2 separate regions of the Homo sapiens genome follow, and region 1 is linked to region 2. The links come from fine-mapping of genetic effects on gene expression. Tissue or cell type: whole blood. Region 2 holds a variant in brackets; the other region holds the start of a gene. All regions are shown on one strand. Distances are from middle to middle.

Region 1 (2,608 bases), 170 kb after region 2:
GGAGGCTATATAAAGTTTTAGTTACTTTTACTTTCTGTCACCTCAGTGTTCCTCTCTTCCTTCTGTGGTTTTAGGGCTTTGTAGTAGTGAAGAAATTTAACAGGTTAAAATGATAAGGATGATAGATTTACTGAGCGTCTCTTCGTACTTTCACCTACATCATGTTATCCTCCTTGAAGCCCCCTACAACACATTGGAGCCTAGTATTTCTTCTTAAACAATCACACGGATTACTCTGAGAAGAAAAACGGACCATTTAAAACATTTTTAGAATCCTGTGATCTTGGAGCTGAAAGGGACTCTAAAGATTGTCTGGTCTGACCCTATATTGTGAATGAGTAGCTGAGCATGAGGTCCAGAGTGTGGAGAACACTACTCAGGAAAGTCACTCACCCAGTGAGTGCTGGTGTGGATTCGGAAAAGCCCAGGGGTGCCATGAGGTGTCCCAGAAGAGAGATGCTCATAGCTGATTTTTTTCTGAGGCATTAGGATAGCTTCTGCACCACTTTTTGCAGCTAATTGTCCCAGTTACCTCTAAGCCTCTGTGGCTAGGATATACAGACTGGCCTCATGCCTTCCACAAGATTATGTTTTAGTTTGGGAAAGAAGATTTATAAATAATGAATTAGCCAAGACTGTATATTAGGTGTGAGATGACGATACAGGAAAGTATAGTTTGTGTATTTTGGTGGTGATTGACTGTCATTGGTGTGATTAGGGAAGGTTTTATGAAGACATGGGATTTGACTGGACTCCCAGAAAGACTAAAGGACTGGGATTGGAGAAGGCATTTCAGGCAGGGAGAGTTAAATTAGTCTAAATTGAAGCTCAGCAGCTGGAGATTACAGGATGTGAAAGATCTTTGGCTGGATATGGGGGTTCAGTGGGAGACTTACTAGTTGGAGCCACTGCTTAAGTTAAATTCCAATATGACAGATTTTAGGAAGATATTTTAGGATTGTGCTAAGATATTTTAGTATTCATTGTGATAGCTTTACTGCAGTAGTCTTTGGCCTCTTGCAGTAAAATAGGGTTTGTTTCAGTTTCACCTATTTGTACTACCTCTCTTTTTCGACTAGTTTTCCAATTTCTCTCTGTATTCTCTTAATTTCTCTCTGTGTTTTTCTCACTTCTGTCAGGTGCTTTTCCCTTAACTTCTCCCCATCTATCAGACACTCAGAGCTACTACAGAATTTGGGAGGAGGATTTGGAACATAAACTGTGACCTACAAGTGAATTTCCCCAGGTGGATGATAAACTCCACTGCAGGCCACAGAGGGGCCTCCTCATTCCAGCAATCTGGCCAGGCTGACAGACTCATAGCCTATGGGAGCAGGGGAGGGTGTAGGGGCCAGTATTTCTCGGGCTAGTGACGAACTGCCTGATTCTTTGCAGCCTAGACAGAGGAGGCAGGAGCCCCAGGGGCGGGCTAATCGCCTGGGCTGGGGATGCCTGGGCAGATGCAGAGGAAGCTGGAAAGGTGGCAGTGCACCTGGGTCGCTGGAGCTGCCGCCGTTCCTAGGAGACCAAGGAGCAGCAAGCCTGCGGGGGAGGGGGAGCAAGTGGGTTGCTGCTTTTAGCAGCTGAAAGGGCTGCAGGGAGCTCTGGGTAAGACATTTTCTGTTGCTGCTGCTTTTGCGGTAGAAGCTGCTGCGAGTAAGTCAGAGGAAGGAGGATTGAGAAGGGAGGAGGCTTCACTTGCAGCCATGCTGAATCACTGTTGCTGATCAGATTTCCCACTGGTCTGCTGGGAGAATCAAGAACAGAACTAGGATCCCCGAGTGCATACACAGTTCAGCAGCTACCACCCTGGCTGGGCCTCACACAATGGAGGGTGAAAGGTATGTATGTATAAGTGTGTGCTGTGTTGTGTGTGTATGTAAGTGTATGTGTGCTTGCGGTGCAGCCACCAGCTTTTGTGTTTGCATTGGCTAGGCAGAGTTGGAAGACCTGGCCACTGATGGATCTTAAAGGGCGCCAGAACAAGAGCAGGAAAGCCGCTTTCCAAATCACCCGTTCCAGGGCTTGAATCTCCAGAGATCTGGCTTCCGCAAAGGCAGGTCTGGGTTTGCTAGGCAGCGGAGCACCCTGAAAGAAGGGACTTCCTGGCTGGTGTTCGGGAATAGTTTCAGCACAGGCTGAATCAGATTGCCTTTCTCAGGCTGTTTCAAGGAGGCGTTTCCCTTTCCTGGCTCCTTTCCCGGGGTGTTTTTTCTTTGGTGGGGGGTTTTTGATGTCATAGTGGGGCTGACCTGACATAGTGTACTTGCATTTTCACGCAGGAGTGCTTGAATCTTCAGCAAGCATGCCATGCTGATGGCTGTGTGTGTGCGCGCGTGCACGCCGTGTATGCCTGTATACACACACATTCAGGGATGAAGGAGAGAAACCCAGTCAGATGATACTTGCTCTGAACTGAGTTTCATATTTGTATTGAAAAGTTTATGAGTGATACTGGAAGGTCTGTGCTTCCTCCATCAGGGATTTCTTTTGAAATAGGAACCAGCAGAAAAGATTTTAAGTACTTTTGTTGAGCTGGATCTAACTAGCGAGGCAGTTAGATCCTGGCAGGCACACACATCTAAATTTTTAAATTGTTATCTGAAGA
Region 2 (2,500 bases):
CAAGAGGAGATTGATCTGAATAACCTAACATATCCTTACCAAAAACAGACGTCCTCTCATTAACCCATTTCAAAGTTCTCTACCTGTTCTGTGCTTTATACTTCCCTTTCCTCTTCACTACCCACGGTAAGACAAATTTCCTAGGCTCTGTAAATTATTACATCTGTATTCAATGCCAATTATTACCAAGTTTTATTATTATTATTATTATTATTATTATTATTATTATTATTATTGTTTTAGAGATGGGGTTTCACTCTGTTGCCCATGCTGGAGTGCAGTGGTGTGATCATAGCTCACTGTAACCTCAAACTCCCAGGCTCAAGTGATCCTCCTGCCTCAGTGTCCTGAGTAGTTAGGAATACAAGCATATGCCACCACATCCAGCTAGTTGTTTTTTGTTTTTTTGTAGAAACGCAGTCTTGCTATGTTGCCCAGGTTGGTCTTGAACTCCTGGCCTCAGTGATTCTCCCATCTTGGCCTCCCTAATGCTGGGATTATAGGTGCCATGGCACCCAGCCTAAAGCTATTTTAAAAATACATGTTTGGCAGATTAGCAAAGGACGATCAGGTCAATATCAATAAAAATATTAAGATGGAGCCCTCTAAAGAAAACACTTAAGATTTCTTTTGGCTGGGTGTGGTGGCTCACATCTGTAATCCCAGCACTTTTGAAAGGCCGAGGCAGGAGGATCACTTGAACTCAGGAGTTCAAGACCAGCCTGGGCAACATGGCTAAACCTTATCTCTACAAAAAATACAAAAATTGGCTGGATGTGGTGGCACACCCAGCTACTTGGGAGGCTGAGGTGGGAGGACTGCTTGAGCCCAGGAGTTTTAGGATGCAATGAGCTGTGATAACGCCAGTGTAGTCCAGCCTGGGTGACAGAGTGGAGACCCTGTCTCAAAAAAAAAAAAAAAAAAAAAAATTTCTTTTGTCCAGAGAATAAACACCACAGAGACATGGGGGACAATTTCTATTATCTTAGGTAAAATTATCACTTCCAATGAAAAATGAAAAATTATTTTTCTAACTTGACCTATTAACACCTTAAAAATGGACACCGTCACCCATTTGGCTCCTTCAATGTCAAATCCTAATTTGAATGTGACAGATATTTAGCCATCAGTGAAAATATCAGCCAGGCTGGTGGCTCATGCCTGTAATCCCAGCATTTTGGGAGGC[C/T]GAGGCAGGAGGTTCACTTGAACCCAGAAGTTTAAAACCACCCTGGCCAACATGGTGAGACCAAAAAATAATAAAAATGTAATCAACCAAGCGTGGTGGTGCACACCTGTAGTCCTAGCTACTTGGGAGGCTGAGGATAGCTTGAGTCCAGAAGTTTGAGGCTTCAGTGAGCTATGAGACCCTGTCTCCAGAAAAATAAAAAGAAAAAGAAAATATCAAACTAAGTTTAAATATATTAAAGCTTATATTACTACTTATCATAGAAGGTTAGACCTTTCCAATTTTTTTTGTAAGAAAATATAGAAGATATAATTACATTTATACTAAGAGCTTACATGGAATTCTGAAAAGTGGAAAAGTCATCAACTTGTGATCCAAAAACAAGAAATCCTAACTGGGCATAAGCAAAGAATATTATAAAAAACATGATGGCAAATCCTACTATGTCTTTAACACAACGGGACAAGGTTGATGACAGCTGAGACATTGTCTTGTTAAAGCTTATGAATTTGAATATCTGAAAAAGAACAAAGTTAATTGAAATAGGAGAATATCAAAGATGAAATTACTTAGAATAAATTAATTTCAGAAGAATTCTGCTTCGAATTAAAGGAGATATTTAATGATAATCATGGGTGTTTGAGGATTTCCCAGCAATCATTACAAGGCCAAACTTCTGTTTTTTTTTTTTGAGATGGAGTCTCACTCTGTCACCCAGACTGGAGTGCTGTGGCATGATCTCGGCTCACTGCAACCTCTGCCCCCTAGGTTCAAGTGATTCTCCTGCCTCAGCCTCCCTAGTAGCTGGGATTACAGGCACGTGCCACCATGCCCAGCTAGTATTTTTTGTATTTTTAGTAGAGACAGGATTTCACCATGTTGGCCAGGCTGGTCTCAATCTCCTGAGCTCAGGTGATCCGCCCACCTCAGCCTCCCAAAATGCTGGGATTACAGGCGTGAGCCACCGTGCCTGGCCAACTTCTTTTTTTTCTGTCATCCAGGCTGGAGTGCAGTGGGGGATTACAGCTCACTGTAACCTCCACTTCACGGGCTCAAGGGATCCTCCCACCTCAGCCTCCAGAGTAGCTGGAACTACAGGCTTGCACCACCACACCCAGTTAATATTTTTTTGATATTTTTTGTAGAGATAGGATTTCCCAGGCTGGTCTCAAACTCCTGGGGCCAAGAATCTACCTGCCTTGGCCTTCCAAAGTGCTAGGAGTACAGGTATGAGCCACTGTGCTGGCCCAAACTACTTTTAAAATTACTTAATAGTTGAAAAAATCTTTTTTCCCCATGGCTTTTTAGTTTAAT

What was found. PIP is the estimated chance that this variant, and not a neighbour inherited with it, causes the effect.
Region 1: it holds the start of KLHL3, and the variant in region 2 is fine-mapped to the expression of KLHL3 in whole blood (TOPMed, PIP 0.96).

What each region holds. Positions count from the first base shown.
Region 1 is chr5:137,734,866-137,737,473 of GRCh38, reverse strand. It overlaps KLHL3 (kelch like family member 3), which reads left to right and starts at 1,385. Exons shown (of 15, transcript NM_017415.3): 1 at 1,385-1,841. The coding sequence starts at 1,828. RefSeq lists an enhancer at 1,118-1,786.
Region 2 is chr5:137,907,968-137,910,467 of GRCh38, reverse strand. It overlaps PKD2L2 (polycystin 2 like 2, transient receptor potential cation channel), which reads right to left. Exons shown (of 15, transcript NM_001300921.2): 8 at 1,522-1,703. Among named protein-coding and RNA genes, the nearest start is that of PKD2L2, 20 kb to the right of the region's middle. The variant C/T (reference allele first, on the strand shown) is at 1,187.